Linked DNA regions of Homo sapiens: region 2 is linked to region 1. The links come from fine-mapping of genetic effects on gene expression. Tissue or cell type: testis. Region 1 holds a variant in brackets; the other region holds the start of a gene. All regions are shown on one strand. Distances are between the middles of the regions.

Region 1 (5,387 bases):
GGAGTCAGGAGACCTGGGGAAGGAGGCCTTGAGGCTGTGTTTAGGGATTTTGGCTTTTATCCCAAGAGCTACAAGGGTACAAAATGCTAAAATTTGCATTTTGAGAAGATCACGCTGGTTGCAGCGTGGAAAACAGATTGGATGTGAGGAGAGGAAGAGGAGAAGGGATGGTAGCTTATTGAAATGCTATACATGGTAAATGTGAGTATTAGGGCTACAATTAGACTAAGATATTGTATCTTGTTCTCAATGATACTTAGTAGGGAAGGCAAAAATTCAGATTTAAAATTTGTTTGGTAGGGAAAACAGATTAATTAGTTTTAGAGTTCTCATAAATAATTAATTTTAGAGTTTCTGTAATTAATGAGCATCTAATAACTCTTCCATTTTCTCTTGTTCTCACAAAAGATAAAAACCCAGAGAATGTACAGCAGGAATCTATGTAGGAAGACTGGGCTCCACTCTGAAATTATTAACTAGAATACTATAAGCTTAATAGATATCTCTAAGTTTCAATTTCCTTAAATCTATGATGTGACTTTGCTCTCATAAAGCTATTACAGATGACATTTATGTGATAAATGCACTCCCATTAGGGTGCAAAGGTCTGATAACAGCACTAGCTCCTCATTAATTTCTGCTAAAGTGTGAAGGGCTGATAACAGGGAAATGCAGCTTTACAGAGGCAGGTACCAAGATTCCTCAGGTCTAGTCTAGTGTCTGGTACATGTTGTTGATATGAAATAAAACTGGGTTAATTCTCTCAAGTTACTTGTGTTTTGAAAGAATATGTTTAATTATATATTGGAAGAAATTTCTAGTGGATGAATTTTAGACAATTGTCTATGAAGTTTGTAGAAATCATTTTAAGTAGCATTGCCTTCTTGATATCAAGATATAACAACACACAGGACTACTCTATCTAAATACTAGGTTTGAGCTGCCACTCTTCTTTCCCATATCCAACTTCTTTTTTGGAGACGGAGTCTCACTTCTTCTCCTAGGCTGGAGTGTAATGGGGCAATCTTGGCTCACTGCAACCTCCACCTCCCAGGTTCAAGCGATTCTCCTGCCTCAGCCTCCCCAGTAGCTGGGATTATAGGCATGTGCCATCACGCCAGGCTAATTTTTGTATTTTTAGTAGAGACTGGGTTTCACCATGTTGGCCAGGCTGGTCTCAAACTCCTGACCTCAAGTGATCTGCCCGCCTCGGCCTATCAAAGTACTGGGATTACAGGCGTGAGCCACCGCACTGGGCCTCCCCATATCCAACTTCTTATTGTCACGTCACAATTCTCCCATGAGTCCCAAGAAAGCAGTTAGACTGATTTTCGTGTGTTGCTTACAGAACTCAATCACGCATACCCCCTAGGTTTTCATTTTAGGACTCTGATAACTGTGGAAAAGACAATTTGGACTAAATATTTTGAAAAAAAAAAAAGCAAGCAAGCAAGCATTTAAAACAATCTTGCTTAGGACTACCAGAATGCAAACTAAGAAATATAATTTTTTAACCCTAGAGTAGTTCATGGCATGACCGAAAAATGAGAATCTATTCATAATCTGTTTCTCTGAATCCATGAAGTATTGTGGAATTCCTGTTTCATTCGCCAAATGAAATGATCATTCCCCCAGGACCCGCCCCTGATTTCAATGCAGAGTGTCTTTCAACATAAGTCCCAGGCCTGACTCTGAAATGTTCTCATGTTGTGGGCTCAGTCCAGCAAGCATCCCATAAGAGGTCTTCCCTGGGGTCAAATACAAGTCAATCTTGAGGTGGGAGGTGGAATGGCCCAGCCACCCTACACCCATCAGGCTGGATAAACATTAGCCACCCCTGCTGGGAGTGGCACAGGTCCTGCCATCTCTTGGTGATCTGGCTTAACCAAGACTGGCCCATCCCTTTCTTGAGCTCTAGAATGAATCAGGGTGCATTTGGTGGACTTCAATGGTACAGCAACTAGTGAAACAACATTTTGGTCCATAAAATTCAAAGGTAAGATGGACTCTGTTTTATAAAAACATCAACTGAGATAAATTTTGTTTTGTACTTACACACAGTTTGGCTCTTTTGCTACTTCACAGCTCTTTCAGTCTAGATAGGCAGAGGAAACAGTAGCATGTTTTTGTTTTGCTTATCCAAAGTAACTCTTTTTATTTTTCCTTCTCCCCAGTGGATTGTGTAGTATTAGGTTGGCGCAAAAGTAATTGTGGTTTTTGCCATCGCTTTTTGCCATCACTTTTTGATGGCAAAAACCGCAATTACTTTTGCGCCAACCTAATACTATTGTTAGACAAATGAATGCATCTTGTTAACAAATTGGCTGGAAAAACCTACTTCTAATTCCTCTGGCTAACCAGAAACATCAAGTCAGAGTAAAAAATAGAGACAGCTGTTGCCATCATGGTTTCAGGTTTCTGAAGGGACCTTTCTCCCACAGTGAAATGATCTCACTAGACCTGATTCTCATAGTTTGAATACAGGCACTACTTTATTTCCTTTTACTAATCAACTTAACTGGTTATTAGTTTTTACAACTAATAAATGCTATTAACAAATTGCCTCTCAATTTTAATACCAAAAGGGTTTAACTTACTTTTTTTCCTTTTTCCCTTTCAAAGTTTTTCATCCTTTGCTCCAGTCTTGTGCAGACCAAGCTGGACCTCCCCATCCAGTCTTCGCTGATCACTCAGGCCAGGATGGTTTCATGCCTCTCAGTTTCCCCAGGGACAGTGCAATTTCACCTCACCTCACAGGGTTGTAGAAAAAGAGATGTCCTCGTTCATTGGGATGAGAAAGAGTTGGACTTTAAAAACAGTCACGGGTTTCCTTTTTTGGGTTGAGTTAAAATGTGAACTCGGTCTTCAGGTGCTGCTGATTTGGTACCACATTTAGGTTTTATGCAAAGCTGACCCAAAGACTTGGCCCACTCCACCCTCCCTTGTCACCGGGGTTCACACACAGTCCAGTGAACGGGCCACCCATCCTTAA[C/G]AGGAAGTGGGCCTGCTTCCCTCGGCTATCACGTGGTCTGAAGCGATAATGGTTCTAGGTAGATCCGAAAGGAAAGCCAAAGGAAGAGCCGGACAACAAAAAGGAATGAAGAAAGGAAAATAAATTCAAGGGGAGTAACGACGGGCCCCAAGCGGCCTTATTATATGAATAGACTGCAGATAACTACATCTTTCTACCGCAGCGCTTCATAAATTCTGTCATCTTGTTAGGATTGTCAGAAGCACACTGACCTCACTTCCTCCATTAACGAGCTCGCCCTATTTTGAGGGGAGATTCTTTATGAACACACAGCCCGGAAACACCTCATAAACAGCTTGTCAGCCTTGTAATTCTGGAAGTAACGAATTCCATGCCAAGGAGAGGGAGGGTGGCCCCCCAGAAGCCAGCTGACCCGCAGCAGAGAGGAGCCTGGCACCGTCGGGGCCGGGCAGAGGCAGGCGCACAGCTGGCTTTGTGAAGCGGCTAACAGCAAAGTGTAATCCCTGCTTACCGAGAAAGGTGTCAGAGCTAGATTGGTGGCTTTTCACGCAATCACTAGGTTCTTTTTATTTGCCTGGATGCTTTCTCTTTTTGGTAAGACAGAGGCGGCCAGAGCCCAAGCAAGATTCGGGGTTTGGAAGGGAGGTACGAAACGGCTCATTTGCGCACAGCCTACTCTGATGTTTTCTTTTTTGGTTTTGAGAGCCACTGCAAGACCCCAGCCATCCCTGCAGCCCCCCAACCCAATTATCTTCTTTGAGGCTAGATGAGGAAAACAGCTTAACGTTCCCAGTGATCCAGGATGGATTGAATGGTCAAAAATTGCATTCCGCTTCTATGAGACTGAGTTTTTGCTGAAGTCTCCAGTACAGTCATGAAAAGATTCTCGACTCTATAAAGGCAAGAAAAACTCCCCATGGTCAGCTTATGTACAGGGCAAGCTCCATAAAGTTGCTCTTGCTGACTAGCCTCAGTTTTAGTGTCTTGAGACAAACCGCATCAAATTATATATAAAAACAATGCATCCCAAATGCCAACGAAGACCTTATCTCTTATTCCTAAGGTGTTTCCTCTCGCTCCCCAGTGAGCTACTTTTCACCCCTGTTGATTTACGCTCTGTTGGTGGACACAAAGATGGGCCGAGCACAAACTGTTTAGTGCTTGCATTGGTGCCTTGAACAGATAATGAAAACAGCTCAGTGGCCAGGACTCCCTGCCCTTTCTTTCCCATAATGATGGCACCAAAACCCTTCACAATGAACATGGTAATCAGAGCCCGTGGACGGGGAATGGATTCATCAAAATTCACTGGATGCATTTTAGAGAGGGTGGAGGTGGGGAGCAGAGAGGCAGACAGGAAGATGAGCTCGGGACTCACCCCCACTCTTATAGGTTTCACATCTAGCCCGGCGCCGGGTGGAAGGTGTGTAGGGTCATCAGTTATTTCCAGTTGCTATTTTGGTCAGCCACATAAAAAATATCCCTGACAATTCTGAATTGCATGTATAAACCATTTTATGGCTGTTGGTCTTGTTGCTCTCTCCTCTCCTTCTCAGTTTTTTTCCCCCTTCTGAGTATCCCATATTTCCTCCTCTCTGCTATATCCAACATAAACATTTATCTTCTTGGACCATGTATTAAAAAAAAAAAAAAAGGTAAAGGGAATAGTAAAAATACAGAGTCAAATGTGAGTGGCAGAGCTATAATTCTTTATGAAGTAGCAGGTAAGATTGATTGTCAAGGGTCAAAAGGCTAGGTCAAACTCCGCTCATTCGTCAGCTGAATGTCATTTTTGTTTTCCCTGTCACCAGATAGCTTTAAAAAAAATTGCAACTCCTTCCTCATTATCTGGGACTTGGCTCCTTTTCTGCCATCCGGTATTAATGAAACCGTGCTTCAAGCCTAGCCCTCATCTTCTGAGGTTCTTCTTCATGTGCTGCCTCTCTCTCTAAAGCACTGCAGAGAGAGCACTGTTTCAAAGGCCATTTTCTCCTGCAGCCACGTTGGGAAATTGCCACTAGAGTGAGAATGATTTGGAAACACACACGAGGTATAAATGTTTGAATGAACAAAAATGTAATTAAATCATAGCCGGTCTAAAGCTTGTGATCCAGTGTAATTGGATGGTGGCAATATCTTTGCATCTCATAAAGAGCAAAACAAGATGAGATGTAATATCTGGAAGCCATCTAAAATTATGTGTCATAAATAAAGAGAAAAATTTTCCTCTTATAATTATAGCAGGTCACAACAACATAATGCAAAACCTGAAATAATGCATTGGCATCTAATGTGCCATCCTCAGCAGGTCAAATGTAGGTTAATGCTATCAAATAATCTCACTTTCAAAAGACTCATTTAATTAGCTCATGTTTAATTATTCTAAAATGAAAGA
Region 2 (5,387 bases), 320 kb after region 1:
CTAGGCAGGGAGTTTGTTCTTCCAAGTACTAGACTGCTTAATTGCTTGCTTGGGGGAGGAGAAATCCTAGGGGAAAGGCATATATGAGCAATTTCTACTCTGTGAAGCCAGCGCTGTGTCCTGAGCTGGATCATGGCCAGAAACAGAAAAGTCTACTCTTCCCTACAGTGGAAGCAACTGTGGATATTTCATCCTAGGAGTGAATGAAAAAACCTAAAGCTCATACTTCATGGGAATCTTTCAATATTCTGACTGAAAACTGGTTATTTGCTCCTCCAACCCAAAGCCATCTAGGAACAGCACTCAGAACAGGAAAAAAAAAAGACAAAAATAATAATTATTCCAAAACGTATTTGAGCAGAAACAAACACAAACATTTGCATTATTAAATGGGCTTGTTCACACCTGCTGAGTAGATATAAGACGATATTTAAGACAAGAGCTAAAAAATAAACCATCCCTTTCTGGTTTTGAGTGACAGCAGAGCAATAAAAATTATTTTCACATTCTTTTCCCTATTGTTAGAAGTAATCATTTGAGTAAATACACTTATCTGTGCTGTAACTATTGAAATGAATCCACTTCAAATATGTATACCACCTTTCTTTTTTATATTTCTAGATATGGTTTCAATATAGACTTTCTGACTTTTATGGTATACATATAGGACAATATTCTATTCTTCTTTCCTTTTAAATACTTACTGTTTCAATTTCAAATAAAAAATCAGCATTCTAGTTTGTACATTTTAGCACAGAAATGTTTACAACCTTCAGCACAATTGCTTTTGTAATTTACTGACTTGGCATTTTGAGGCGTTTTTAACAAATTATGAGAAATAACACCTTCAGAAAGCATGTGACTACTTTGATGCAACTATTTACAATGTATTCATAAGAAGTCATTAACCTGTAGAGTTCTTAGACATGTGGAACCTTTAACAATTATACTAAAGAGTACATACAAAATACAGAGCTATGTAATAATAACTAATTTTAAATCCTGACAAATTAGAAGTTAAGCCTACTATCTGTAAAAATATGTCCTGATTCATTTTTTTAAGTATATACCTGAGCCTTTAAAAAGTATATGCCTTTACAATTGATTTCCAATAAACAATACTGAATAACAAACTACAAGTGACTTTCCTGATTTTTTCACCAGAAATATATAGAAAAAGGAAATCCTATTCTTATTAGAGATTGAAGTACAGTAATTCTGCACGGTATTAAGAACCATAACTATGCCATACAGAAGACAGGACCTGCAACCTAAGAAAAGTTTTATTAAACAGGACAAGACAGTGATCAGGGGCTCAAGTTTTATTTCAATATGCAAAAGTCATCTATTGTAACAGATATTTATTTCATTCCCTACACCACAATTATTTTAGCTATATTTGATATATTTGCTCGTCAGTGAGTACTTACATTGAAACAGGTATTAAGAGTATATAAAATCAGTTTATATATTTTCTCCTGCCTAGAGACTTCACTTTATATATGCTTATAGAACAAAAATTAACTTGAAAGTTTTAAAAAATATTTCTCTGTCGAAGCAAATATCTACTTCTTTTAAAATAGTGTGAGCCTGTGAAAACATGGTATTATGTATTTGACATTTTCCATCTAAAAATACATTATGAAGCAAGCATGCTGGTATTAATAAACCATGTGCTTTCAGAACCCTGAAGTGCTTTTCTATAATTTTGTTGAAAACAGAATAAGATGATATATTTTCCACCATGCTATTAACATAAAGCAAACAAATTTTATGTCATTGCCTTGCCAGCTTGTCTTGATTGGAAAGTGTACAAAAAAAAAAACTTTTAGGAGTTTATAAATATTCGTGACCATAGTCTGGTTTATGAGTTAACAATCCATAAGTAAACATAGATAACTTAGAAAAATTTAGTCAAAAATACATTACAAAAAAGAAAAGAAACCATGTATATTTCCTTTTTCCTTACCCCACCCCCATCATAGTCAGAAAAATCACCCTCCCTTTGCAGGAGGGTACTATCCTTCCTTCCACCACTTTAGTTATCTGAAGGCAAATGAAAATACAATGATCCTTTTCGTTTTCTGATTTAGCTTACAACGCAAACATTTTAACACAAACATAAACTACTGACTTCACGGAAAGCACCAAACAGAAAGAGCAAGATTCACTGACCCATTTGGAAGACAAAGACGACAGAGCGGGAAAGCTCTAAAAATCAGCTTGTGAGGCCTCTGAGAGATATTCTTCTGGCATTTCATCACAGCAGCCCCAGACCAGCTCACCTCCCTAGATACAAGGAGGAGGCACTAAATGGAGCTGTTTATTAAAGCTGCTGTGCTGGATTGCATTAGGAAGCGCGAGCAGACCACCTGGACCTTTCAAGATTGTGACAGTGTTTAATTTGCAGCCTGCCCTTCTGCAGCAGCCAAGACTACTACTACATTTACCGGGCTCAATCACACATTATCTGGGTTAGAAGTCAAGGCACATGTATTTATATATTTATATTTCCCATATGGAGAAAGGGAGAGAGGGAGAGAAAGAGAGAAGGAGAGAGCACAGTCAAAATAAAAATATTGAACAGCATTAGAAAAATATTAACTACTACCTAGGAAACCACACTTGATTCTCTTCTCGCACTTTCTTTCAGAGATCAAAATCCAAAAAGAAAGCAAATTTCTAAAATAGATTTTTAAGAAACATTCAGACCAAATTATAAATTAGATTTATTCTCCAGTGTTTTTGTTGTTGTTTTAGTTTTTGTTTAAAAGGATCGCATTGAAGTTTTAAGCTGAGGTTTCCCTGGTCAGATTTAATGGGTGCCTTTTGCCTTTCGCACTTTCAGCACTACACTGGCAGGTAGCTGAAGATACAGATAGAAAGATGGTACTGTAAATATGAATTATGTGAATCATATGGTGAGACCCTTGTGGAAAAAAGGGGAGTTGAGAAATGGCTGACTCCATACCTGACCAATTACAGCTTGCATGGTCCCCGTGTCCTGCTGCGCTGAGAGATAGCAATCCATCATATGTTGTCTTTGAAAAGGAGAATGGGGGTTTCTGGCATGCATCTGTCAATCAACTTCTGCACTCACAACCATCACCAAAAGCAAGGGGAAAAAAAGTCAAGCTGCTCCACCAAATAGAATGAAACCGTCATGTGACCTCCGGCAGACACGCACACACACATTCACTACCTCCACAGAGCGTAAGAATTTTCTGTAGATATGAAATGACATTGACAAATATCCAATACCAAGTAAATAAAGTGAGACAAACAGCTATTCACCAAAGACAAAAACATGGGCTGTAATCTTCCGCTAAAGGTTTAACAAACCTATGAGGATTGTTTTTAATGCTCTAGAAATCTATGTTTAAAACAAAACAAAAACAAAATGAACTATCTCAAATGAGTGTCCATTAAGACTTTGATTTTTGTGCTATTATATACATTTTTAAAATTACAGTTCATTGCTCTACTTTTCTTAAGGGGTCCCTAATGATTTTATTTTTAAAATCTCTAAATGACCTTTTGATAATATGCAGTTATCTCTGTTGTTTTATATAAGGACACCTTTTCAGAGAAGCTTGAAATGTGAACTGCTACATAACAAACACCCTGATATTTGTGAATTGGAAGTGGACATAGAAAATAATCCGTGTAAATGATGATGACCACTGTAATATAAAATATTCAAAGTGTGTAAATAGCAGTCACTAAACTTTTTATCTTCTGAAAGGTAAGGGATGATTTACTTGCAGCTCATCTAAACTGATGTAATGTGTTTTTAATGTGATGACAAGTATTTTAACTTTCTAAATTTAATTTTAACTATCTGATTCCTCACAATCTAGGGACAGATTGCTAATGCATTATGGGTCAGTTATTGTTAAGGGTGAAAAGAATATAACTTACCAACTTTTTAACCTTCTTAGGCTAAAGATCGGAACCTGACTTTCAAGACAATCCTACAGGTATTGTAAAGTTGCTCTCCAAAAACCCAAACCCATAAACACCATCCGTTAACTTGGTGGCTTTGTGGCAGTGAAGAACATTCGCATTTGCCTACTTTTTTTCTTTTTTTTTTTCATTTGCCTACTTTTTAACTGAAGTTCATTAGTTAGTATACTCTCCCTAACTTTTCAAAACAAATTTATGGGAAAACCTTGTGTTAATATTAAAATGGAGATTTTTTTCAAGGCTCTAAACTGATGACAGGTCGGGTAGCAATGAGAAATATTTAATACAGAATATATACTATTATGTATATTATTGCATAATACCCACGGCTTGAAAATTAATCAAAAGGAACTTCAAGTAAGAAAAAAAAAACAAAACAATTTTCAACATTGTTAAAGAAATCTTTAGGAGCAAAGAATGAAGGACCGAAGCGCGCGCGCACACACACACAAACACACACACACAGACACAGACACACACACAGTTAAATCAGCATCCCCAAATAAAATGAGACCGTGCACCAACTGGGTAGCCCTCCTGGGAGCTGAGGGCTAACTGAGGAAAGGCCCTTCTCAACATCATTAAATGTCCCGTCTGCGCTGAAGTCCTACCCGGGGGTTTCTGCAGTTATCCCAGATCAGAACCTCAGGCTTCCCATCATCTCCTTTGGCCAGGGAAGGGGAGGCCAGGGAAGCCGAGCCTGGAGCATCGACAAGGACTGAGCCAAACTTGCCCGAAACCTGCGGGCTCACAGAGGGCAGGGGGCGCGACTGCTCCTGGCATCGCCTTCTTGGGACCCCGCCTGGGCGGACACTAGACAGAAAGCCAGGTGACGGGACCAGTGGGAAGTTGCGGAGGAGGGGCGAGCTGCAGTCCCAGGCCGCAGCAGCCGCTGAGCAGCCGCCCCCGCTTTCTAATTCTTGGGGGGTTTGCAGCCAAGCCTGGAGCGCACCCCGGCGGCACCGCCCTCCTGGGCGCCCGGGAGCCCCGCGCCCTCCGCCTGCGTCCTCGGACTTAGGCAGCAGAGCCGGTGCGCGGATGGCGTGAGCCCCGGGGTGGTTTTGGCGTCCTGCGTCCTCTGTAGTGCAGCCTGGGTTCCCCACGCGCTGCCACCCGATCGGAGGCTCAACTTCCCCTGGGATCTAAGCTTCTTAAGCGCCTTCCTATGGGGCTGGGGGCTGGGGGTGTGGGTGGAGGTGGGTGGGAGAGGCTGGCCAAGCTGCAGTATGAGGCCGAAGACCTCCTTTGAAGCTCTGTCCCACAAATTATGGTGGTTCCGATTGGCGTAGGGACAACACTCTTTGCTTATATTCCAGTTGTTTACATGACCATCTGGCCTGTATGAATTATAATTATTACTAGCCAGCGTTGATGGGAGGCTGAGCCAGGCACTGTGTCAGACACTTCACAGTATGTTACAT

Alleles and levels. Positions count from the first base shown, and alleles are read on the strand shown. Sizes are in standard deviations (SD) of each study's normalised expression.
With allele G in place of C in region 1, the expression in testis of the gene that starts at base 3,121 in region 2 is lower (moderate effect, 0.63 SD a copy in GTEx).

The links. PIP is the estimated chance that this variant, and not a neighbour inherited with it, causes the effect. A credible set is the group of variants that fine-mapping cannot tell apart.
Region 2: it holds the start of POU6F2, and the variant in region 1 is the best candidate, but not a certain one, in a credible set for the expression of POU6F2 in testis (GTEx, PIP 0.64).

The regions. Positions count from the first base shown.
Region 1 is chr7:39,291,206-39,296,592 of GRCh38, reverse strand. All of the region lies in intron 4 of POU6F2 (POU class 6 homeobox 2), which reads right to left. Among named protein-coding and RNA genes, the nearest start is that of SNORA20B, 35 kb to the left of the region's middle. The variant C/G (reference allele first, on the strand shown) is at 2,993.
Region 2 is chr7:38,975,643-38,981,029 of GRCh38, reverse strand. It overlaps POU6F2 (POU class 6 homeobox 2), which reads right to left and starts at 3,121. Exons shown (of 10, transcript NM_001370959.1): 1 at 2,972-3,121. The coding sequence starts at 3,076. It overlaps POU6F2-AS2 (POU6F2 antisense RNA 2), which reads left to right. Exons shown (of 7, transcript NR_138047.1): 7 at 1-1,135.